Homo sapiens: one gene and its partners. The protein of the gene in region 2 interacts with the protein of the main gene of each other region in a biochemical or structural test. Each region holds a gene or a part of one and is shown on either strand. Other genes may lie near its edges. The genes, in order: SNX21, LRRK1, MTG1, LMAN1L, CKAP2, ODF2 and KIAA1217.

Region 1 (3,489 bases), on a different chromosome or scaffold from region 2:
TGGCTGGGGTTTCAGCTTATGTCTGGTTTTCCAGAGGGGGCTGTCAGAAGAACTAATGCTCTATGGGAAGGGAGTACAAAAAAAGGGGCAGCAGCCCCGGGCACTGAAGCTCATCTCTGTCTTTCTCTCTTCTTGCTGCCTTGGGCCTGGGTCATTTCAGACAAACCTCAGGTAAGATGGGACTGGGCTTCCCCGCCACTGCGCAGCAGCTCCCGCCCTCCTGGGTGCTGTCCCAGGGGTGAAAGGAAGAGGTGGGGAGGTACAGCTGGGAGTGTGGGGGATGGGGAAGGATGGGGAGGGAACGGGCCCGTGGACAACTTGCATTTGCCCTGACACCCACCCTCCCTGCAGCTCTACACCCTCGCCGTGATCGGCCCAGGACCGCCAGATTGCCAGCCAGCCCAGATCTCTCGCCGTTACTCGGACTTTGAGCGGCTGCACCGAAACCTGCAGCGGCAATTCCGGGGCCCAATGGCTGCCATCTCCTTCCCCCGTAAGCGGCTGCGCCGGAATTTTACTGCAGAGACCATTGCCCGCCGTAGCCGGGCCTTTGAGCAGTTTTTGGGTCACCTGCAGGCAGTGCCTGAGCTGCGCCATGCCCCGGACCTGCAGGACTTCTTCGTGCTGCCGGAGCTGCGGCGGGCACAGAGCCTCACCTGTACTGGCCTCTATCGTGAGGCTCTGGCACTCTGGGCCAATGCCTGGCAGCTGCAAGCCCAGCTGGGCACCCCCTCTGGCCCAGACCGCCCCCTGCTGACCCTGGCTGGGCTGGCCGTGTGCCACCAGGAGCTGGAAGACCCTGGAGAGGCCCGGGCATGCTGTGAGAAGGCCCTGCAGCTGCTTGGGGACAAGAGCCTCCACCCTTTGCTGGCACCCTTTCTGGAGGCCCATGTCCGGCTCTCCTGGCGCCTGGGCCTGGACAAACGTCAATCAGAGGCTCGGCTCCAAGCCCTGCAGGAGGCAGGCCTTACCCCCACACCACCCCCCAGTCTCAAAGAATTGCTCATCAAGGAGGTGCTGGACTAACCCTTGCCTAGATTTAAGGCCACTGTGAGGAGAGGGGTTGCCCCAGAAGGCAGGGGAAGGACCTGATGAGAACAGAATAGCTGGGAGGCTGCAGAGGGTGCTGGGAGCCCCTAGAAGTTCCAAAAGAGAATGTGAAGCAGATCAAGGAAACTTCTGTTGAGCTAGGCTCAGGGTGAGCTTTGGCTGGGGTTGCCCTTGTGTAGTACAGGGAAGTCTGACACAGCCTCTCCAGCCTATAAACAGCCGGGGGGCTGTGGCACAGGTTGGGGCAATGTTCCCTTGTTGGTGGGCCCCCAAGCTGGCAAGGCCTCTTGGCTGAAGGCCAGGGACTCTGCCCCTGGAGTCCTGGAGTTAAGGGATGAAGGCAAGGCTGCAGGTCTGGCCCAGGGGAATTAAAAGCCAGCCACTCCAGTGGTATCAGTCTCTTTATTGGATGTGAGGGCCAAAAGGGACTGTAACTCCTGTCTCAGGAATGGGGATAGATGGGAGGTTCTTGAAGCCCCAGGCGAAGCTGGTACCTCTGGCTACAGCTTGCTCTCTGAGACCTGGGGCTTCACTCGGATCACGCCCTCCTGGGCACAGGTCACAGCTAGGACTCCATCCTGACGCCACAGCCGCCCATGGACCAGCCCCCGAGAGCCACCTGTGGGTGAGGTGAAGGGTGATGATGGCCTGCTTCAGAACAGCCAAATACACTTTTTTTTTTTTTCCTGAAACAGAGTCTCACTAAGTTGCCAGGCTGGTCTCAAGCGCCTGGGTTCAAGGGATCCTCCCGCCTCAGCCTCCTGAGCAGCTGGGATTACAGGCGCACATCACCATGCCCAACCTCCAAGTGGACTTCTTGCAAAGGGTCTGGCCCAGGGCAGGGCTGCCCCACACAAGGGTGCACTGAGTGTCGTGGCTGCTCCAAATGCCCCTTCATGAGCTTATTATGGACCGTCATTGAGGGGTAACTCCTCCCACAGGAACCCCAGTTGACAGTTTAAAAGCACTTTCACACCTCTCCTCGCTTCCTCAAAAAGATCACAGAGGGAGGAGCTCTGAGAACAGTCTCCTTCAACAGCTCGGCCAAGCAGAACTGCTGTACCTCTGACCACTTGTGTTAGGAAAACTATCGGCTCCCTGTATAATAAATCAAGCCAGGTCCTCCAAGTGGTAATTCATGAAAAATATCCCCACTACCACCACCAAGGGGAAGAAAGGACTCAGAAGAGAGGACTTGAGGCCATGAGGTCTGGCCTCTTCCCTCCCCATCTGGAGACTCTTTCTCCCTTGCTGGCTTTGGGCCCAAGTTTGATGTTTATGAGGATGATTGCTGGTTTCCCTTACACATAGCAGAGCTCACTCAGTTCTCACAGTAGCCAAATGAAGCAGTTATGTGTTGTCCAGTTTTCCAGACCAGGACTGAAATCCAGAGAGGGTCAGGAATTTGGCCCCATGATGAAGCCAAATCTGAACCCATGTCCTCACTTCAAGGTTATCAATCTTGGATTGTGATGCTATTGGTACTTGAGAATACCCCTTATCTGAGTATAAAGAATCCTTGAGTTTTGTCCTTGGTTTATCAAGCAAAGCTTTTCTTCATTTGAAATGTACTCCCTTGGAAAGGAGGTCAGGGTTCTGAAGCTAGACATTGATGAACGAGTCTTGTTTCTCTCCCCTGCAAGGAAGGTCCAAGCAGGCCCTTAGGGACCACTGAATGCCCCGATCCCAATCAGGTTAATCAGAATCACTTAGAGAACTTAAAAATACAGTTTCCTGGACCTTATCCAAGACCTACTGAGTGAGAATCTTGAGGGTGGAATCAGAATCTATTTTGAAAAGGCATCCCCAAATGGCAGTCTGATGGACTGCGGGTTTGGATACCACTGCTGTAATGTAACCCTCTTTGTTTAGATGAGGAAACTGAGGTTCAGATGGAAGATATGATTTGCCTATTGTAATACAAAGAATCTGAACTGGTTTTGGGACTAGAACTGGGTCCCTGGGAGAAGGTGAATCACATTTCCAGCACATTCTAGAAATTTAGAGCAGAGCAGGTGTCCCGGCCTCACCCTCTCATTTTGAAGATGAAGATGCCAAAGCCTGGGAGGGAAGGAAAGGAAGTGACCTGTGCAGCGCCACACAGGAAGTCGGGAAATCAGCATCACCCAAGAAAGCAGGCTCCTGCCACTCAAGGTCAGTGCCCTTGTCCCACACGGCCCCACACTCACCGGCCCAGGGGCTCTCGCATTCATAGAGCATCCAGTGGTCAGCTCGGAAGGGGGCGTGGAACCACATGGAATGGTCCAGTGAGACCATGAAGTGCACCTTGTGCTGCCACTGGTGAGGCAGCAGTGCAGTGCCCAAGAAGGCATAGTCGGAGATATAGGCGGCCACGCAGCAGTGCATCTTCATGTCGCCCTCGCCTGCAACAGGTCCCCATCAGCCCTGGGCTCCTGGGCTTTCCAGCTCAGGACCTGC
Region 2 (3,500 bases):
GGCGCAGGTGGGCTGAGTCCGAAAAGGGAGTCAGTGAAGGGAGATAGGCGTGAGGCCGTTTTATAAGATTTGGGTAGGTAAAGGAAAAAGGGGGTTTGTTCTCTGGCGGGCAGGAGTGGGGGTGGCAACGTGCTCAGTGGGGGAGCTTTTTGAGCCAGGATGAGCCAGGAGAAGGAATTTCATAAGATAATGTCATCAGTTAAGTCAAGGACCGGCCTTTTTCACTTCTTTTGTGGTGGAATGTCATCAGTTAAGGCGGGGCAGGGCATATTCACTTCTTTTGTGATTCTTCAGTTACTTCAGGCCATCTAGGCATATACGTGCAAGTCACAGGGGATGCGATGGCTTGGCTTGGGCTCAGAGGCCTGACGCACTGTGCTGCAAGCTGCTTTCAAACAAATGCATTTATTATATCTTGGAGAACATTCCAGTCCAGCAGTTAGTGCTGCCTGCCTCTTTGACAGGCTGCAGAGGATGGCACTGTTGCATGTGCAGGAATTTTATGACCTCCCTCATGATAGAGGTTGGGGTTGCTTCCTGTTTGGGGCCATATTCTAAGAGATGCTATAGTGAACATCCTTGTTCTGTATCTTTGGGCACTTTTACCAAGATTTCAGGACCAAATACTTAAGTGGAACTGCTGGGTCAGAGGGTATGTGCATTTGAAATTTTGGTAGATAAGTCCAGAATGCCCTCCAAGGGGTAGCCTCCAACTACCCCCTCGTTAATCCACCCTCCATTCAGCAAAGTGAGTTGTAAAGTTGACTGAATCATCTAATAATCCTGCTTAAAACTGCCAGGAGCTTCCGCGGAGACCCCCACTTGCAATTCTGTGTGCACAGTCCCCTCCTTCAAGGCCGCAGCCACGCCAGGCTCTCCTGTCCCTCCCACACAGTGGCTTGAACCCACAACAGGGTCTTTGCATGTGCAAGGCCCTTGCACCCAGTGCCCTCAGAGCTCCATGGAATGCCTTCTTCCCATTCCTCAGTCTCACATTGTACCTCCTGGTGCAGGCTGCAGGCCTCGCCAGCCTCAGTCAAATGTAACGTTCCTAGGCCAAGCCACGAATTGCCCAACTGGGTGGTCCGGCTGCCCTGCTATCTCACTTGTTTGTGTGCTTATTGTCAACTCTACCTATGAGGAGTGAGCTCCTAAAAGCAGAGATTCGGCCAGCGCAGGTAGCTCACACCTGTAATCCCAGCACTTTGGGAGGATGAGGCGGGCGGATCACCTGAGCTCAGGAGTTCAAGACCATCCTGGCCAACATGGTGAAACCCCGTTTCTACTGAAAATACAAAAATTATCCAGGCATTGTGGTGCACGCCTGTAATCGCAGCTACTCGGGAGGCTGAGGCAGGAGAATTGCTTGAACCTGGGAGGCGGAGGTGGCAGTGAGCTGAGATCGCGCCATTGCACTCCAGCCTGGGCAACAGAGCGAGACTCCGTCTCAAAAAACAAAAACAAAACAAAACAAAAAAAACACAGAGATTCTTGACTGTGTCTCCGGTCACAGTGCCTGACACTTAGTAGGTGTTTAAGAAGGAGATGCTGGCTGGTTACCACCCTCTGCCAACATGAGGGTGGTAAGTGACATCTATCTGAGATGCCTGTGGTCCAGCTGATGTTGACAGGGTCCTCAGGGTGCCCCCCACCCCCTCACTGAAGCATGAGCTCTTCTACACCCGCCAGAGGTCACTGGGCAGAGGCCAAAGTTGCAGGGACCATGCTGAATGCTGGGCCCATCCCAGCAACATTTTACTGTTGTGGAGACTGTTTCCCTGCTGTTGGGTGAGGTCAAGCATTGATGTTTAAGGGTCTGTCTGTTTCTTTGTAATTCAATTGCTGCCCATGCCCTTAACCTGTTTGCCTTTCCGGTTTTCTGTTTCTTATTGACATTACGAACTCTCTGTAATGAAGATAAGTGAGGTCTTTGTCTCTCATTTGTGTTGCAATGTTTTTTTTTCTCAGTTGCTAGTCTTTTAGGCTTTGGACTAATTTTCCACGTAAGTTTCAATTTCATGGAGTCAAGTTCATTAGTCATTTCCTGTATTTTTTTTTTTTTTTTAAGAGTTGGGTCTTGCTCTGTCACCCAGGCTAGAAAGCTGGTGTGATCATAGCTCACTGTAACCTCCAACTCCCAGGCTCAAGGGTTCCTCCTGCCTTGGCTCCTGGGTAGCTGGGACTTTAGGCCTGTATGATTTCTAACTGTGATGTGATGAGATCCCCTCCCCTGGCTCTGTGAGGCCTGGGGCTGGGCTTTTCCAGGAGTAGGAGAGGGTGAATTTTGGTGCCTGCAAAGCAGCCTGGCCTCGCGTGATGCCAAAGCAAAAGCTTGGGGCCTGGGGCAGATGGAATCTGGCTTGCATCTGGGGGTTAACTGGGCAGTTGTGGGGCACTGGAATGAGAGGAGAGGGAGAGTGGGACTCCTGAGACCCTGCTGTGGGATGAGGGTGAGAGAATGGCAGGGAGGTAGACAGGAAGCACAGACCCTCAGCCCCCTGGGACTTGGTGCCCAGGTTGGTAAAAAAAAAAAAAAAAAAAAAAAAAAGAGTGGGGGGACTCGCTTTTTCCAAGCCTGTGACTGACAGAGCAGCGTCTCCACCCATGGAAGCTGCTCAGGGGCCACCTGCATGTTGGCACAGTGGGCAAGGAGGGGCTGCCCATTATCCCCAGACAGCGAGTGGGTCTGGGAGGGACTGAGCCCGTGCTGTGGTCATAAGCGCTCAAAAGACAGAGGCCACAGCTTCGTTCTTGAAAGAATCTGTTTATTTTGAGATTAAAAGAGTCTCATCTCCCTGCATATCCAGCAAATACTAAATTTGATCTTTTTAATTTTAGAAAAGGGTCAACAAACTTCAGCTGGAGTATGATCTCTCTTTCAAACTCCCATTCTGGTTTAAGGAGCCCCAAAGGGTAACTCTTGACAAAAAAGTGGCTATGTTTGCACATGTGTGTGCATATGTGTGTGCATGTGTGTAATGCATGTGCATAGTTTATAAAATGTTTGCTGTTGTATCCATAAATCCCCTGTGGACAACGTTCCTTTTCGTACTCCGCTGTACACGTGTGCAGTGAATGTTTAGCAAATACATAATTTGGTATAAATCCCATACAATGTGATTTCACAACCAGAAGCCTGACTGCTGAGATATTACTGAATTTTTTAAAGTGATAAACAAGATTATTATGTGCAAACAAACAGGGCCTGTGCTCCAGCTGCGTCCAAATTTACTTGACAAAGCTATAAACACAAGGCCCTTTCTGAAGTCCTGCTGATTGAGTTTCCCCTTCCTTTTGTCGGTGGAGAGGAATGTAAAGGCTAAGCGGGTGCACTCGGACTGTGTGCCTCTGGGCTTGCTGGCGGTGGCACTTAAAGGAACTCATTCATTCTCTGGATGGGGCAACACTCCTCACCCGGGATCCCCCAAGGGCTTTCCCACACGGAGACCTTCCCGAACACAGAGACATCTGATCTTGGCTTGCCCAAGCTGGCCCAGGCC
Region 3 (3,500 bases), on a different chromosome or scaffold from region 2:
TAAAAAATAATACGCTTAAAAATAAACTTAAAAGAATAAATGACTGTAACAATGCTCCAATTAGCACCAAAAACACCCTCTCTGTAAAATAACAGTTCACCGTAGTTTAAAGCCTTCAGATTTGCACATCATGAATGGGTTTGTTAATAAATGCCTTATTAATATGAAAAATGAAGCCAACAAGGACTTGAATTAAACTTGAAAATACTTAAGGAAAAGAGCCCACGGGGCAGTGAAGGGTGCTCGGGGCTCCTGCTTTGAATCAGAGTCTGAGAACAGGCACAGAGGGAGGAAAGGAGCGCCTGCGACTCCGGAGTCCAGGAACCCTCCAGCAAAGGCAAGGCGGACGCCATGGAGGAATGGCCTTGCAGCCTCCCTGCCTGATAATCCAGCCCCGTCTACTTCACACGCTTTGTATTCTCTGGATCAAAGGGATTTTTTTTCTTTTCTTTTCTTTTTTTTTTTGAGACGGAGTCTCGCTCTGTCGCCCAGGCTGGAACGCAGTGGCACAATCTCAACTCACTGCAAGCTCCGCCTCCCGGGTTCACGCCATTCTCCTGCCTCAGCCTCCTAAGTGGCTGGGACTACAGGTGCCCGCCACCACACCCACCTAATTTTTCGTATTTTTAGTAGAGACGGGGTTTCACCGTTTCAGCAAGAATGGTCTCAATCTCCTGACCTCATGATCCGCCCGCCTCGGCCTCTCAAAGTGCTGGGATTACAGGCGTGAGCCATGCACCCGGCCAAAGGGATTTAAATAAATGAACAAATATCAAAGTTTAGAAAAGCCATCTTCATGTTAAAGATTTTAAAAGAGAGAAAAATTAAGTGTGAAATTCACAGAACGACCTGGTCCCACTGTTCAGCCCTCCTGTGAACTGGACTGAACGAGACAAGATGTGCTCTGGGGCTGCGGGGTCAGCAGAAGACTGGCAGTGCTCCTCGGGCACGTCCCCTCCAAGAAAGATGGTGGCATCAGCACATCAGCCACACGCGCCAGTACCTTTCCTGAGGTGATCAGCCGCACGCGCCAGTACCTTTCCTGAGGTGCTGCCTCCGGAGGGAGTTGATGAGGGAGGACTTGCCCACGTTGGGGACCCCAATGACCATGATACAGTACTCCAGGTTCTGCGCAGGCAGAGAGAGGGGTCACAGGGCCCACCGTGGCCGCTAGAGCCTGAGACTCTGCAACCCCACCCAGGCAAGGGGACCCCAGGCCAGGTCAGCTCAGGGAAGAAGGGAGGTTAACGCCGAGGCTCTGCCCACCCAGCGGGGACGGCCTCGGCCCTTTCCACTGAAGAGAATGAGAGGACAAAGGAGGGGCCTCCCTGCCTGGGGCGCTGCGCCTTCTCCTTGGAGAGGCCAGGCAGGAGGGGCTGGCCCATCCCACGCCCGCCTCCCACTCCCAGCTCTGGGCCCCACCAACCAACCTCTTTTCGGTGGTAGCGGTGGCTTCTCCCAATCAGTTCAGTGACCATCGGGATGATCTGCAACAAACACCCACTCATGGAGCCACCCCAGGTCGGACGTCTGTGCACTGACCCGCTCCTTCTGCCACCTCAGAACAGGATTAGGGATTCCAGTGTCTCCACTTTCACATATCCGTTAGGAAAACAGAAACCTCCTATCTGGAATTCTACCCAACATTTCATAGGCAAACTGGGCGTCACCCTTCATCTGGAGGTAGCACACCAAGTATCCGGTGTTGGGAAACTGGAGTTCTGTCCAGGTCACAGATGTCAGACTGAGCTCTGGGGCCGGGGACCACCTATGCCCGTCCCCTCCCATCAAAAACAAGCAGGGCAGACCCGGGGCTTCAGTGACAGCTGTAACTACCTTTTAATGAAGAAACACATCAAGCCAGAAAATTCTACCACATACAACTGGAAACATGAGCTACCTGAGTCTCCAAAAGACTCTGACCACCTACAACCCTGGAATGCGTCTACAGCCTGACCTTGTGCCCTCAGTACAGGGAGACCCACTTGCCCCAGGAGATCGCATCCGTGTGTGGCAGCTGGAAACCAACACCTAGGATCTTTTCCAAAGCTCTGCTTCTTACTAAAGCATAAAACAGTTTATAATGCTCCTCGAACCTACTGAAGCAGAAGCGTCAGAGAGAGCACAGACGAAAAGCCTACCTGCTTGACATTTTCATCCTTTACACAGTTGGTAAAAATGACATTTTTTAGGCCTTCTCCTTCTAAGTGTTGCATAATTTTCTGAAAGACACAAAACATTTCTATGTTACTTTTTTTACTGGAGTCTTGGCTCTGTCACCCAGGCTGGAGTGCAGTAGCACAATCTCGGCTCCCTGCAACCTCCGCCTCCCTGGTTCAAGCGATTCTCATGCCTCAGCCTCCCAAGTAGCAGGGATTACAGGCATGCGCCACCACGCCCAGATAATTTTTGAATTCACTGGCCTTAACATGCAGTGAAACTAGTGCAAAGCAGTATCATATTTCTAAACATCAGTGCTGTTAATCATCTGACCTAAAGTATGACTGATGTTTAAATCAACAAGTCCTTCACTGATTCAGCTGGTTTTATTTAGCTGTCCACGAAGATGACACGGATGGAGAGATCAAACATAAGACACACACCTGAAGCCACACACTCTGGGTAGTAAATGTACTTGGGTGTCCCTGCTCAGGGAGGCAGAAGGCAGGGCCACCCAGGGGCAAGTCTACCTCTCTCCCGATTCTTCAGAAGCACTGGCCTTTCTCTGACCAGGTCAGACACTGCTGTGCCCTATACTAGACGGCCACCCACCAGTCTACAAAAAGTCACATTTTCAAAGGCAGGAGTTGCCACTGATATGACGTAAAAGTACCAACTAGTGAAAACACTTGCGATGATTTAAAAAAAAAAAAAAAACAGGCTGGACGCAGTGACTCACGCCTGTAATACCAGCACTTTGGGAGGCCGAGGCGGGCGGATCATGAGGTCAGGAGATTGAGACCATCCTGGCTAACACAGTGAAACCCCGTCTCTACTAAAGATACAAAAAATTAGCCGGGCATGGTGGCGGGCGCCTGTAGTCCCGGCTGCTCAGGAGGCTGAGGCAGGAGAATGGCGTGAACCCGGGAGGCAGAGCTTGCAGTGAGTCAAGATTGCGCCACTGCACTCCAGCCTGGGCGACAGAGCAAGACTCTGCCTCAAAAAAAAAAAAAGAAAATAAGACACAAGACAAAGAGATAAAAGAAAAGACAGCTGTGCCTGGGGGACCACTACCACCAAGATGCAGAGACCGGTAGTGGCCCCAAATGTCTGGCTGCACTAATATTTATTGGATACAAAGCAAAAGGGGCAGGGTAAGGAGTGTGAGCCATCTCCAATGACAGGTAAGGTCACGTGGGTCATGTGTCCACTGGACAAGGGGCCCTTCCCTGCCTGGCAGCCAAGGCAGAGAGAGAGGGAGAAAGAGAGACAGCTTACGCCATTATTTCTGCTTATCAGAGACTTTCGGTACTTTCACTAATTTTGCTACTGCTATCTAA
Region 4 (4,153 bases), about 26 Mb from region 2:
GGCCAGAGCTTCCTGGTGGACAGGACCTAGGGGGCATTCCAAGGTGAGGAAAGCAGGAAAGCAAAGATGTGAAGGTGAGAACCGGCCCACAGGACTGCGATGAAAGAATGCAGGATGGAGTATGTGTGTGAGAATTGCCACTGGCGGTGGTGGGGCGGGGAGGAAGGAGCCCTGCATGGTAGGAAAAAGGAATGGGAGAGAAACTGAGGCAGTCTTGGCAGGAACTGGGGGCAGGGAACTCAGAGGCCCTACTCGAGCTCGCTCCCCACCCTCCAACCTGCCAGCCTGGAACCTGGCCCAGGGCCCAGACTCTGCCAGGACGTTCTGGAGGCAGCTAATCCAGCCTGTTTGCTCTATAAAGGCCAGGGATGGGGGTAGGGAGGCTCAGAGCTGCAAGGCCACAAGTCCCAGGGCCTCTGGAAGCTGTCACTGCCTCTGAAATCCTTGCAGAAGGCTTTCAGCCTTACAAGGCCTGTGGGTGAGACCTTGCCCCAGACCATGGGCTCCTTCAGCCTCACTCTGCCTGGTATCTCTGGGCTGGGCACAGAGGAACATCAGGGTGAACGAATGAATGAACAGACAATGCACACATCACTGGGTGATCTTGGAGAAGGTGCCTCTGCTCCCTCACATGATCTGTGACACCCAGATTTGGCAAGGCCCATAGCAGTGAGTGTTGTATAAGTTTTGCCATCCTGGTCCTGAAGCAGGGCCCAGCTTGGTGCTGTGAGAAACAGCCCACCTTTTTGTTACCTCCTGTGTCTCTATGAAGGAGGACTGGAAGAAACCCTACTGACAGGGCCTATCATCTTAAAGGAATATTTTGGGCTGGGCGCGGTGGCTCATGCCTATAATCCCAGCACTTTGGGAAGCCGAGGCAGGCGGATCATCTGAGGTCAGTAGTTCAAGACCAGCCTGGCCAACATGGTGACAACCCGTCTCTACTTAAAAAATACAAAAATTAGGCTGGGCGCGGTGGCTCGCCTGTAATCCCAGCACTTTGGGAGGCCAAGGCGGGCGGATCACGAGGTCAGGAGATCGAAACCATCCTGGCTAACAAGGTGAAACCCCATCTCTACTAAAAGTACAAAAAATTAGCTGGGGGTGGTGGCAGGCACCTGTAGTCCCAGCTACTCGGGAGACTGAGGCAGGAGAATGGCATGAACCCAGGAGGTGGAGCTTGCAGTGAGCCGAGATCACGCCACTGCACTCCAGCCTGGGCAACAGAACGAGACTCCGTCTCAAAAAAAAAAAAACAAAAACAAAAACAAAAATTAGCTGCGTGTGGTGGCACACACCTGTAATCCCAGCTACTCAGGAGGCTGAGGCAGGAGAATCACTTGAATCTGGGAGGTGAAGGTTGCAGTGAGCCAAGATCACACCACTGCACTCCAGCCTGGGCAACAAGAGTGAAACTCCATCTCACAAAAAAAAAAGGGATATTTTGTCCTGGCTTTAGTTAGGAATCGTGCCATTTCTCAGAACTCACATCTTTTTTTTTTTTTTTTTTGAGCCAGAGTCTGGCTCTGTGCCCAGGCTGAAGTGCAATGGCAGGATCTCAGCTCACTGCAACCTTGGCCTCCCAGGTTCAAGCAATTCTCCTGCCTCAGCCTCCTGAGGAGCTGGGACTACAGGCGCACGCCACCACACCCAGCTAATTTTTGTATTTTTAGTAGAGTCAGGGTTTCACCATTTTGGCCAGGATGGTTTTCAACCTCTTGACCTCGTGATTCATCCGCCTTGGCCTCCCAAAGTGCTGGGATTACAGGCGTGAGCCACTGCACCTGGCCAAGAACTCACATTTTATAGACAGAAATCCACAGCCGATCTGCTTTCTGTCTTTGCTTTGCCTGCTAAGAGGCTCAGAATTAAATCCATGGCCCAACTCTCAGGTGGACAGACCTCACAGCATATGTTTTGGAAGCCATGCTCCTAGACTATTTCACGCTCCACTCTAATCCTCATTGTTCTTGCTCACTCCCTCTATCGTGTAGTTCCATCATCACAAACCCTTTTTTGAACAAGATCTGGTAGAAGACACACTCTTTGTAGGTCTGGGTTTGGAAGTCCCTGAATACAAACCTATGGGCTAAGATGCTCTCATGCCTGCTTCCACCCACAACACACATACAGGGAAGGGCTGGTGCCCACTCACCTGGGATGAGGATGCTTCCCTCCAGGTAGCCCCCAGTTCTCATGGCCAGCCACAGGCCCGCTGGGATGGAGCCGGGAGAGTGGAGGTTTGTGCTGGTCCACATTGCCTTCTGTGTGCCTGGGACTTAGTGTGTGAGCATGTGTCTGTGTGTTCACAGGTCAGAGGTAGAGGAAGGGCAGGGGTCCAAGGAGAGGCAGAGGAGAAGAGAGAAGTCCTGGGGCAGGGAAGCAGAGAGGCAGAGGAGAAACAGCTTGGGCAGGGGTGGGGGGTGTTGAGGCGGTGGAGCAGGAGACAAGCCTGGAAGGGGTCCTGGGGTGCCTGGCACTGTCCCAGGCCTTGCCCCACCCTGGACAGAGGATGGCTGTGACAGACCCACTCCCCACCAAGTCACAGCCCCTCCAGCACTTTGAGGGACCCTGGGCATAGCTGGTCCCCACCCCTGCCCCTCACCTCCATGATGGCTCCAGAAGGGTATTCCAGCCCCAGGCAATGCCAGCCTTGGGCCTTTGAAGCTGAGCTTGTACTCAAACCTGCGTAGAGGAGGACACCCCGTCTCAGGGCTGTGGGGGTCCAGGAGCAGGAGGAGAAGGCAGAATAAGGGACCTGGACCACTGACCGCCGGCATCGTGAAGGCGCCTGAAGTCTGGGCCCCGGGGTAGATCATAGCTGGGAGGCCGGGGAGGGGATCCTGGGATAGGGCCAGGCAGGGAGGAGCTGGGGACTGGCCAGGAGCTGGGTTTTGGCACTGTCCTCTCCCTCTATCTCCAGCATAGACATCCTGTTCCTTCCAGGCCTGCTGTCAGGCCCCGCCCATCCCTCACCTCCAGTCTGACGTGGGCAGCGGGACCCCACGACAACCTGAGCTCTGCCCCTGCTCCTGACTCAGGCCATCTTTCTGTCTCCCATCACTTCCAGCAGTTGGATGCGGCAGAGGGGAAGGGGGGGTGCCCAGGGTTGGCCCCCACCCTTCAGCAGCCCTGGCCTCCCCTCCCAGTTAGGGAGACAGGCCTCCACATTCTGCCTGTGTCCCCCAGCATGGATGGCACATCTATCTGGACACCCATCCTTCTCTCCTCCCTGCCCCCTCTCTCCCTCTCCCGAATTCCCCCAGGCTCATCCTTCCAAGCAGCCTGGTTTCCTCAACAAAAGCATTACATGGAAAAAAGAAGGGAGTCTTTAGAGACAGCACAAAAACGCAACGTGCAGACCTTGTTTGGAGCCAAATTTTAACCCAACTGCAAAAAAAAAAAAAGATATTGGGGAAATTTGAACAATGGATATTTTTGAACAATGGATATTTGACTATATTGAGGAATTGTTAAAAATTTTAGGGCACTGTGGCTCATGTCTGTAATCTTAGCACTTTGGGAGCCCAAGGCAGGTGGATCACCTGAGGTCAGGAGTTCGAGACCAGCCTGGCCAACATTGTGAAACTCTGTCTCTACTAAAAAAAAATACAAAAAATTAGCCAGGCCTGGTGGTGCATGCCTGTAATCCCAGCTACTTGGGAGGCTGAGGCAGGAGAATCACTTGAACCTGGGAGGCAGAGATTGTAGTGAGCGGAGATTGCACCATTGCACTCCAGCCTGGGTGATAAGAGCAAAAATCCATTTCGAAAAAAAAAATTGAGAACTAATATGGTATTGTGGTTATGTTTTTTATTTTTTATTTTATTTTATTTATTTATTTTTTGAGACGGAGTCTCGCTCTATCGCCCGGGCTGGAGTGCAGTGGCGCGATCTTGGCTCACTGCAAGCTCTGCCTCCCGGGTTCACACCATTCTTCTGCCTCAGCCTCCCAAGTAGCTGGGACTACAGGTGCCCGCCACCATGCCTGGCTAATTTTTTGTATTTTTTAGTAGAGATGGGATTTCACCGTGTTAACCAGGGTGGTCTCGATCTTCTGACCTCGTGATCCGCCTGACTTGGCCTCCCAAAGTGTTGGGATTACAGGCGTGAGCCACTGCGCCTGGCCTTTTTTTTTTTTTTTGAGAGGTGG
Region 5 (3,500 bases), on a different chromosome or scaffold from region 2:
TGTAGATTTGGATTATAATTTCCTTGACTGCATTAGAATTTTCTTTCATGGTTTCTCTTCTGTCATATGCAGGCAAATTTATATTGTGGAACAATATGACCTAAAAGTTTTTGTGTTTGAGTATGTTTTATAAGGTTGCTTTTTAAAATCTAAGGTAAATGCTTAATAATAATTGGGAAATACTTTATAATCTCAAATCAAAAAATGCATTCATGGAATCATTGAGCATAATTGACGTTGATATGTTTAATATTTCTTCAAGCTTGTGAACTATATATGCCATTAAAGTAAGATTACTTAAAAATATGATTTTTTCTTTTAACTTTATTTGACAGAGTTCTGTCAGCAATTTCAAAGTAACGTTTATATCTGCTTCTAACTATAGAGCTCGTCTGAGTGAGTGGAAAGCTGGCAAAGGAAGAGTGCTAAAAAGGCCCCCTAATTCAGTAGTTACTCAGCATGAGCCTGCAGGACAAAATGAAAAACCAGTTGGGTCTTTTTGGACTACCATGGCAGAAGAAGATGAACAAAGATTATTTACTGAAAAAGTAAACAACACATTTTCTGAATGCCTGAACTTGATTAATGAGGTAGAGTCTTTATATTTGCTTAGCATTTTATAGTTTGCAAATTACCTTCATAAGCATTATTTCATTAAATTATATTGTCAGTCTTTTTGACCAGGTGATGTTGGTGATACTATGTTGACTTAACATTAACTGTGAGGTTATTTTAACAATTATTTAATTGCGAGATACACTGCTTCATTCATTAATTGTGAGCTTATTAGCCTTTAACTGACTACATTTTGCATTGAGTTCATATAAATATACAGGTTGAGTATCCCTTATCCAAAATGCTTGGGACCAGAAGTAATTGAAGATGTTTTTTGTTGGATTTTGGAATATTTGCATATACATAATGAGTTATCTTGGGGATGAGATCCACAAAGTTCATTTACGTTTTGTTTGTTTGTTTGCTTTTGAGACAGTCACTCTCACCCAAGCTGGAGTGCAGTGGTGTGATCTCAGCTCACTGTAACCTCTGCCTCCTGGGTTGAAGCCCTTCTCCTGCCTCAGCCTCCAGAGTAGCTGGGATTACAAGTGTGCACCACACGCCTGGCTAATTTTTTGTATTTTTAGTAGAGACAGGGTTTCACCATGTTGGTCAGGCTGGTCTCAAACTCCTGACCTCATGTGATCCACCCACCTCGGCCTCCCAAAGTGCTGGGATTACAGGTGTGAGCCACTGCGCTCGGCCTCATTCATGTTTTATATACAGCTTATACACGTAGCCTAAAGATAGAATACTTTTTATAGTTTTGTGCATGAAGCAAAGTTTGTATACATTGAACCATTAGAAAGCAAAGGTGTCACTTTGTCAGCCACCCATGGGACAGTCTGGTTGTTTGGCAACACCATCATTCCTCACTCTGAATTTCCATGCTACCAATAAGCAATTATTCTCTTACATTTATTCACACATAATTAATTAACAGTTTAAAAAAAGACACATTAATACAGTGAAAAATATGTTCAGAGTAATTAAGCAGCACAGTAGCATCATCAGAACGCCTGTATCAGCTGTTAGACAATAGCAACAACAAACAGCAGCACGTTTTCAATCTCCATCTATGATGTTGTGTTTAATTAAGAGGTATTTTACACCGTGTTTTATTTTTTTAGGTGAGAAGAAACACCAGAAGCAGTTGAGGGACCAGGAAGTGGGTTCTCTAGGGATAAGGAGGCATTCTGCTGGGTGGCTTTTTAAGATATTTACTTCAGAGTCATCTGCCTCATTAGCAATGGTTTTTGTCTTAGAAGTTTCTCTTTGATTTTATAAAGGGACATGATTTCTTTTTCTGTTCTGGATAAATGCTGCTCTAGTTCTTCAGTAAGCCTGTTGCATACTTTCACCTTGTCGCCTGTAGGTACATTTTCTGCAGTGTTAATGATGGTCATCTGCATTGTGATGTTGATACTCAAAAGTTTTGGATTTCAGATTTTGGATTTTCAGATTAGGGATACTCAACCTGTATCAAAGGGATAATTGGGTTTTTTTACTGAATTACAAATATTTGATTTCTCTGAGCTAATTAATATGTAATACACTGAGGTGATATTTACTTACTGCTTCTAATATTTTGTTTCTTACATCTATTCATTATATTTACACATTATTTTTTACGTTCATTACACATTTTACCAAAGACTAGCAACACAAATACTGTGTGAGTCATTATTATCACAGATTAAGTTACCTAAAATACTCAAAAAAAAAATCCCATTCATCTGGTCAGGTGGGGTGGCTCACGCCTGTAATCCCAGCACTTTGGGAGGCCAAGGCGGGCGGATCACCCAAGGTCAGGAGTTTGAGACCAGCCTGGCCAACATGGTAAAACTCTGTCTCTACTAAAAATACAAAAATTAGCTGGGCATGGAGGCGGGTGCCTGTAATCTCAGCTACTCAGAAGGCTGAGGCTGGAGAATCGCTTGAACCTGGGAGGCAGAGGTTGCAGTGAGCCGAGATTGTGCCGTTGCACTCCAGCCTGGGCAACAAGAGCAAAACTCCGTCTCAAAAAAAAAAAAAAAAAAAAACAATCCCATTCATCTAAGCCAACATCATCATGTTTTTGAATTTATTGCAGAATTTTGCTATTTGGACCAAAATCCTATGGAGTATAATAATCAGCTCCAGAACAATATTCTGTTTAATAATAGATAATATCTTTGTTTCCTGACTGCTCTTTAATCTTGTTTTGGTCACCCACTAGTGTGTAAGATCCACAGCAAAACTGAATTCAAGGTATGATTTCAAACTTTACTCTTCATGAGCATCTTTTAACTTCTTGTGGTTCTGAACACCAGTAAAAGTTACAATCAGGAAAACTCTTGAGTCTCTAATAGAATAGAATTAGAGTTTATTTCTGCTCAGTTTAAGTTTTTCCTTTTGATACTATGAACTTTTTCTGCCCTATTATTTAATTATATGTAACTGTGACATAAACCATTACAGATTCATTTTAATCTTAATATCAAAACCTGATAAAGACGAGGAAAAAAAACTCCGCAGACTATTCTTACTCATAAACATTTGGTAGAAGGTATTAACAAATGGAATCCCACAATATATATGAGGATAAAATCAAGATCAAATAAGTGTTCATTTTTTACTAATAAATTTCTCAACTAATGTTTCATTTTTTTGCTTTATGCTTAGGGCTATCGTTATCATTGATCTTGACTATAGTAGGCTCAATTATTGTTCCCACTTTGTAAGCTAAAAAATATTACACACATTTTTTCTTGCTTTTTTAGGGATGTCCAAAAGAAGATATACTGGTCACACTGAATGACCTGATTAAAAATATTCCAGATGCCAAAAAGCTTGTTAAGTATTGGATATGTCTTGCACTTATTGAACCAATCACAAGTCCTATTGAAAATATTATTGCAATCTATGAGAAAGCCATTCTGGCAGGGGCTCAGGTAAGATAAAAA
Region 6 (3,500 bases), on a different chromosome or scaffold from region 2:
CAGCTACTGAGGAGGCTGAGGTGGGAGGATCACTTGAGTCCAGGATATCAAGGTTGCAGTGAGCTATGATCCATGATTACAACATGCACTCCAGCTTGGGTGACAGAGCTAGACTGTGTCTCTAAAAGAAATAAAAAGGTTAAAATGACAAGTTTTATGTTACATATATTTTACCACAATTTTTAAAAGTTAATAATGGAATATACCAAAGCCATTTAATTGTATACTTTATTTTTTCTTCTAGCTTTATTGAGGTATATTTGACAAACAGAAGTAGTATACATTTTAAGATGTTCATCGTGATGATTTGATACCCATATACATTGTAAAGTGACCACCTCAATCAAGCTGATTAACACATCCATCACGTCACATGGTTACCTTTTTGTGTGTGTGTGGTGACAACACTTAAGATCTCCTAGCAGATTTCAAGTATATAATACATCATTAATTATAGTCACCATGCTGTACACTTTAAATGGTGTTCAAATTTATATCTCAATAAAGCTGTTTTTAAAAATCAAGTAACAGCTGGGCATGGTGGCTCACGCCTGTAATCCCAGCACTTTGGGAGGCCAAGGCGGGCAGATCACCTGAGGTCAGGAGTTTGAGACCAGCCTGGCTAACATGGTGAAACCCTGTCTCTGCTAAAAATACAAAAATTAGCCGGGCGTGGTGGCAGTTATCTGTAATCCCAGCTACTCGGGAGGCTGAGGCAGGAGAATCGCTTGAACCTGGGAGGCAGAGGTTGCAGTGAGCCGAGATCGTGCCATCGCACTCCAGCCTGGGGGACAAGAGCGAGACTTCCTCTCTAAAAAATAAAAAAAATTAAAAAAAATTAACACATAAATACAATATGATATTATTTTCCTAAAGTTACACATGAATCCCTTTCCCCTTCCCCCAGAGACAAACAGTATTTCTCTTGATGCAGCAAAATGCTGTTTCATTACAGAGAAACAGTATTTCAATACAGTATTCTGTACAGTATTTTCAATACAGAGAAATACAGTATTTCTCTGTAGATGTAGAGAAAAAGGATGGGAAGGATACTCCTCAAACTAATAGCAGTAGGGTAGGGTTTGGAGGTGGGTACAGGAGGAACTGTAGCTTTATTAGCATTCACTATTTTATAGTGAGAATATATTCACATTACTTTTCAAATTAGAACTACAGTTTTTTGGGCCAGGTGTGGTGGCTCACACCTGTAATCCCAGCACTTGGGGAGGCCAAAGCAGGCAGATTGTTTGAACCCAGGAGTTCAAGACCAGCCTGGGCAAACAGGGAGACCCTCCAACTCTACAAATAATAATAATGTTTAAAAAGTTGGGCATGGTAGTGCATGCTTGTTGTTCCAGCTACTTTGGAGGCTGAGATGGGAGGATGGCTTGAGCCCAGAAGGACCAGGCTGCAGTGAGCCATGATTGCACCACTGCACTCCAGCCTGGGCAACAGAGTAAGACTCTAAAAAAAAAAAAAAATACAATTTTTGGAAAAGGTAAAGAATCAATAAAATGTAGACATCTGGGTTTATTGCTTAATGACTTGACTTTTTCCTTTGCCTTTCTTTGAAGGATTCTGAAAGACTAATGGAGCAACAAGGAGCACTGCTGAAACGGCTGGCGGAGGCCGACTCAGAGAAAGCGGTAACTAAGGCTGCCCTTGTCTACTCTAGTGGGTACAGGTGGCAAGAGCGTCGTTCCACTACAAAGTGTAGAGGTGCTTGGATCAAGGCAGGAGGGCTGGAGCATTTCGCTAGGTCTTAGTTTCACGATCTGTAAAATGGGCTGATGTCCTCCTGTCACGCTTGTTCTGATAGGCTTGTCTAGTTAGTTACTTGAGACCTTGAGCCACAAAGCTGGACACCAACATAGAGAGGGTAATGATGATGTTGGATTTGTAAATCATCCGTGTCTGTTAAAGCTGGATTTCCATCAAATTAGTATTATGGATTCAAAGCCATCAAAAAGTACACACCTTTGGACTCAGTAATCCTAATTCTAGGAATCTCTCCCAAAGCAGCATGTTCCAAAGTCTGTTCATGGAACCCTAAGTTCCTCAAGATGTTAATGAGTGCAAGAAACCGAAGGGGAGGTTCCATAGCCAGTTAAATTTGGGAAACCATAGGCTGGCCTGAACATGAAGTTCAACAGCTTCTTTCAAGACTTTTTTGGAGTGTCTGCTGTATTAATGCTTTTGTAAGTCTCCAAGAGAGGGGAGGGAGACGGAGGCCCAGTTTCCCAAGGTGTGGTCTGTGGCCTCTGATGCTTAGTTGAGGAAGGAGTGGAGATGCAGCAAGCTCGGCGATAATGCCTAAATGTGCATTCCCAGCTCAAGAACCCTTGTTAAGTTATGATATACATCAGTAACTTGAACCGTCAAGCAGCTCTTTCAAAAGACACAGAAGATTTAATCACATTATGGTAAACATGAGCTTTTAGGCTATGGAACGAAGTAGGCATATGACTTTTTTTTTTTAACGGTGCTGAGCATATGAGTTTCAATGTGCATTAACTGGTTATCTCTGCATGGGGGGTTACGGGGTTTCTTTGGAGGATTTTTTTGGTGTGTTCTCAATGTTTTCTACAGTTAACATTGCTGTTCTTAAATTGCAAAATAAATACATGTTCATTGTTTTAAAAAAATGTTTTAATGCATATGTTAGGTGCTTCCTACCAGAATCTCTGACATGGGCCAATGTATGTAGGACCTTGGGCCCCAGTGGCCAGGTACTCACAAATCTCTGTCCTCCCTGGGCCGGGCCTCTTTGCCCTTCCCAGGGGCACCTGACAGCCTGTGTTCTCTCCCAGCGCCTGCTGTTACTGCTGCAAGACAAGGACAAGGAGGTGGAAGAGCTCCTTCAGGAAATACAATGTGAGAAGGTAGTGTGCTTTTTTTTTTTTTTTTTTTAGACGGAGTCTCGCTCTGTCGCCAGGCTGGAGTGCAATGGCGCGATCTCAGCTCGCTGCAACCTCTGCCTCCCGGATTTGAGTGATTCTCCTGCCTCAGCCTCCCGAGTAGCTGGGACTACAGGCGTGCGCCACCACGCCCAGCTAATTTTTGTATTTTTAGTAGAGACGGGGTTTCACCATGTTGGCCAGGATGGTCTTGATCTCTTGACCTCGTGATCTGCCTGCCTCGGCCTCCCAAAGTGCTGGATTACAGGCATGAGCCACTGCGCCCAGCCGCAGTTGTGCATTTTTATGAGCCAGTAGAATATAATGGATATGCAGAGAGCTGGGTTCAAATCCTGTCTTTGGGCCGGGTGCAGTAGCTCATGTCTGGCACTTTTTCGAGACCAGCCTAGGCCACTCCCTAGCACTTTGGGAGGCCAATGCAGGAGGACTCATTGAGGCCAGGAGTTTGAGACTGTCCTGGGCAACACAGGGAGACCCCATCTCTACAAAATTAAAATTAAAATTAAAAAATCAGCCAGGTGTGGTGGCATGCACCTGTAGTTCCAGCTACTCTGGATGCTGAGATGGGAGGATCACTTGAGC
Region 7 (3,500 bases), on a different chromosome or scaffold from region 2:
GCATAAGAACCCAGCAGTGCCAACAGAAAGCACAGCCACCGATTTCTCAGCCTCCCACTGGTGTTTTTGCAGCTTCACATCTTCGATGTAAAATGTCACTTGAGACTCTCATATGAAAAACACTCTCATATTTATTTGCTTTTTAATATTATGAAATTGCAACAGAAATTGGATTGGTTCTTTATACGACCCTGTGCTCATGAAGTTAAGCTTTAAGGGGTTGAAAATTCTTTAACAATACTTACACAGATTAAGCATTTCTAAATAACATCATGGTATAGATGAGACAATGGATTATAATTTTGTGCTTCGGTAATTGTTTCTGATGTTCCTGTTTTTAACATTTTTCTTTGACATAGTACTCAGATGCATTTAAAAAAATGAAGTCTACCAAGAATGCTGTCCTCTTTCTTCCCCTATTTCTGCATAATTGTGCTAATATACTAGCTAGGGCAGTTATATTTAAAATGGCATGTGTATATTTAGCAGCATAATTATGCAAATTCTACTGTGTTTATGATTGTAAATATCCTTTAGGAGCAGTTACTTAGCATCTAGTCCTGAAACAATTTTTGAAGAATTCTGGTTGAAATGTTTAGAATTCACTCCTGAATTAACTTCTCTGTTGTGTGGAGGTGGGGCTTATAGTTCTCATTTGCAAGGCAGAATACTGCACAGTGGTAAACAGCATGGAATATGTAGAATTCTTTAATAGTCCTGGACATTTTATGCCACCTACTGGCTTTGTGGCCTCGGGCAAGTTACTTAACCTCTCTGAGCCTCAGTTTCTCCATCTGTAAAAAGGAGATGATGATAGTACATATCTCACTGGGTTGTCATGATGATTACATCATATAATGTATAGAAACCACTTCACATAGTGCTTGGCTCATAAAAGGCTCTCAATAAATGATAGGTGCCATTCACCTCCTTCCTATACATTCCCCAGGAATGCTACATGTCAGCCTAGTTACCAAGATATCTAAAAGAGTTCAGGGCCAGATTCTGAGCTGTCCTTGGAGGAGGAAGTATGGCATGAGCTTCACCCTTGTCACTTTGTCCCATGTAAGAAACAATGGGGGAAGCATGTAGGAGTGCTGAGGGCAAAAGTTCCAGACTCAAGTTCTTTTGACCAGAGAATTATTCTTCACCTTTGACATGTGACTGAGGGGAGTTAGCGGGGAGTGTTTAGGTCTTTCAGCAATAGTGAGTCTAAATGTAGAGAGAATGTGTAGGTGTGTCTGTCTTGTGTGTGTGTCGTGTGTCTGTGTGTGTCTGTGTCTTTGTGTGTCCATGTGGTATGTGTGTGTCTCTGTGTGTCTGTGTGTCTATGTGCAGGTCTCTAGGAAAAGAGAATCTAACCGGCCCACATATACCCAAGCATTCCAATTCCACCCTCTGGAGATAAGCTGATTACAGGTGGGGAGTCACCTTGGCAAGATGTATGAGATAAAATTTTTCCTGTGCTATTTTACATTATGGGGAATGAAAAATGTGAACATGTAAAATTACATTCATAATTACAATCATATGTCAGAATACACTGGTGATAATGACTGTATTTTAGGTGAATATTCATCTGTTTTGTCAGTTTTTCTTATATTGTTAATCTGGAAATAGAATAATTTGGATTTTCTAAAAAGGTTTTCTAACATGTAAAACTGAAGTCCATAGAATTTTCTGAAATTTTACAAAATGGAAGTCTCTAGGGTTGGCAGATCTTTTTTAAAAAAGGGAGTGGAGGCTCTCAAAGAATACCCATAGTACCAAAAGCTAAAATCTTTCAAGATTTTGATCCCATACAGAGATGACTCCACAGGTCAGCAGAGGGTTTGTTTTATTCTCTCCATAACTAAACGTCTTGAAAAGTGAGGCTCAAGGATGTACATTAAGTTGTGTGTGCGTGGTAATCACACAGATGACACTGAGCTAGGTTCTGGAAAGAAGGCAGACACCATCTTTGGTTGGCCAAAAATTTTGATAATTTCAGCACTATTCCCAAAAGAATATTACATCTAAACTAATCTGTTTTCATGCAAATTCAGGTTTTTATCATCCAAGAACCGGGGTGGAAACAGTTCAATATGGTCATGGCAAAATCAAGCTCCTGATGCTCTTTTATCTAGGATAGGTCAGTGTGGGAGGTAGGATTCTGGCTCTCAACATTATATGCAGGAGACAAATTATCTTTATTGTTTTCTGGTCTAAATTCTTGCTCCCGTAAGTTCCATCCCCTCAGCAACATACCATTTCCCAACCAGCACCTCAAAGCCTGCCAAAGGGGACAGGTGTGTTATCCTTTCTGTGAAGTATGCAACACAGGCTTCCAAGACTTATCGCACATCTTGGTAGATTCCTCTCCAGATGTCACATTGGTCTGTTCCCATGAACCACTATGAGTGTTTATCCTATACCCCTTAGCTGTCTGCAGTGACGGGAAGAGTCCCTTTCTTTGATGCTTAGAATTTCACTTCATGAGGACTTTGGAAAGGAGAGAATGAATACTATTTTCCAATCCTTATTTTTTCTTAGTCCTGCATCATCAAGCCATTCACTGTTGTTGTTATTCTAGCTACATGAGAGAGTTAGAACTTTTGTTTCATTAATGATCCCAGAACTTTCATGTTCTTTCTCTTTCTGTCTCCTGGAATCTTTCTGCTATGATATTCCCTGTAACTGAACAAGTAAGAAGGGATTGCCCTTTCATAATAAAACTGTGCTAAAGAGGACTTCAGGGCTTTCTGACTTGTGTGTGAAAACAGTAAGGTAGACAGGTCACATTCCATTCACAATTTTGGCCTTCTTTTTACATGGTATATAATAGTAAGTGATATTAACATTTTTTAGTGAGAAGCAGTGGTTCTAATAAGGTATTGAATAACTGAATATCTAGACACCTTATTTTTCTTTTTTCTTTTGAGATGAAGTCTTGCTCTTGTCCCCCAGGCTGGAGTGTGATGGTGCGATCTTGGCTCACTGCAACCTCCACCTCCCAGGTTCAAGTGATTCTCCTGCCTCAGCCTCCCGAGTAGCTGAGATTACAGGCACCTGCCACCACACCCGACTAATTTTTGTATTTTTAATAGAGATGGATTTTCACCATGTTGGCCAGGCTTGTCTAGAACTCCTGAGCTCAGGTGATCCACCTGCCTCAGCCTCCCAAAGTGCTGGGATTACAGGCGTAAGCCACTGCACTTGGCCTGGACATCTTATTTTTCATACCCCTTGATTCATATATAACAATAGGTAGCAGCATGCTTAAACCTTCTTTGGACTCAATTTCTTTGGCTAGATTTTTATGATTATTATGTTGACTTGTTTCAACCAATTCAGGCTAGAGAAATTCCCTTTATCAAAATTAGCTTTTCTATTACTATATGAACTTTGGAAGGTTTTCAAGATAGAGTAGGAAGCTTCTGAATTGGTAAATTATAAAATATGTCTATTTAAAAAGAAATTCAAGTCCCCAGAGAGTCTTTCCCTGGAAAAATTTTGCTGAT

Evidence for each region.
Region 1: the proteins of LRRK1 (region 2) and SNX21 form a complex in vitro, tested with the Homo sapiens proteins (2 studies listed by BioGRID and IntAct, with this or other methods).
Region 3: the proteins of LRRK1 (region 2) and MTG1 form a complex in vitro, tested with the Homo sapiens proteins (one large-scale study listed by BioGRID).
Region 4: the proteins of LRRK1 (region 2) and LMAN1L interact on a protein array, tested with the Homo sapiens proteins (one large-scale study listed by IntAct).
Region 5: the proteins of LRRK1 (region 2) and CKAP2 form a complex in vitro, tested with the Homo sapiens proteins (2 studies listed by BioGRID and IntAct, with this or other methods).
Region 6: the proteins of LRRK1 (region 2) and ODF2 form a complex in vitro, tested with the Homo sapiens proteins (2 studies listed by BioGRID and IntAct, with this or other methods).
Region 7: the proteins of LRRK1 (region 2) and KIAA1217 interact on a protein array, tested with the Homo sapiens proteins (one large-scale study listed by IntAct).

The regions. Positions count from the first base shown.
Region 1 is NC_000020.11:45,840,288-45,843,776, forward strand, and holds the end of SNX21 (sorting nexin-21), read left to right. Parts: exon of another isoform or gene 1-18; coding exon of another isoform or gene 19-171; intron 172-351; coding exon 352-1,026; 3' UTR 1,027-1,550; coding exon of another isoform or gene 1,551-1,669; 3' UTR 1,670-1,745; coding exon of another isoform or gene 1,746-1,756; 3' UTR 1,757-2,989; downstream 2,990-3,489. Other genes in the region: ACOT8 (acyl-coenzyme A thioesterase 8), read right to left, coding at 1,551-1,669, 3,240-3,434. UniProt on the Homo sapiens protein: Binds to membranes enriched in phosphatidylinositol 3-phosphate (PtdIns(P3)) and phosphatidylinositol 4,5-bisphosphate. May be involved in several stages of intracellular trafficking.
Region 2 is NC_000015.10:101,069,357-101,072,856, reverse strand, and holds part of LRRK1 (leucine-rich repeat serine/threonine-protein kinase 1), read right to left. Parts: 3' UTR 1-3,500.
Region 3 is NC_000010.11:133,397,157-133,400,656, reverse strand, and holds part of MTG1 (mitochondrial ribosome-associated GTPase 1), read right to left. Parts: intron 2,223-3,500; coding exon 2,142-2,222; intron 1,488-2,141; coding exon 1,431-1,487; intron 1,129-1,430; coding exon 1,038-1,128; intron 1-1,037. UniProt on the Homo sapiens protein: Plays a role in the regulation of the mitochondrial ribosome assembly and of translational activity. Displays mitochondrial GTPase activity.
Region 4 is NC_000015.10:74,811,482-74,815,634, reverse strand, and holds the start of LMAN1L (protein ERGIC-53-like precursor), read right to left. Parts: upstream 2,801-4,153; 5' UTR 2,781-2,800; coding exon 2,606-2,780; intron 1-2,605.
Region 5 is NC_000013.11:52,461,978-52,465,477, forward strand, and holds part of CKAP2 (cytoskeleton-associated protein 2), read left to right. Parts: intron 1-385; coding exon 386-590; intron 591-3,317; coding exon 3,318-3,488; coding exon of another isoform or gene 3,489-3,497; exon of another isoform or gene 3,498-3,500. UniProt on the Homo sapiens protein: Possesses microtubule stabilizing properties. Involved in regulating aneuploidy, cell cycling, and cell death in a p53/TP53-dependent manner.
Region 6 is NC_000009.12:128,480,006-128,483,505, forward strand, and holds part of ODF2 (outer dense fiber protein 2), read left to right. Parts: intron 1-207; exon of another isoform or gene 208-811; intron 812-1,574; coding exon 1,575-1,646; intron 1,647-2,810; coding exon 2,811-2,882; intron 2,883-3,500. UniProt on the Homo sapiens protein: Seems to be a major component of sperm tail outer dense fibers (ODF).
Region 7 is NC_000010.11:24,474,638-24,478,137, reverse strand, and holds part of KIAA1217 (sickle tail protein homolog), read right to left. Parts: intron 1-3,500. UniProt on the Homo sapiens protein: Required for normal development of intervertebral disks.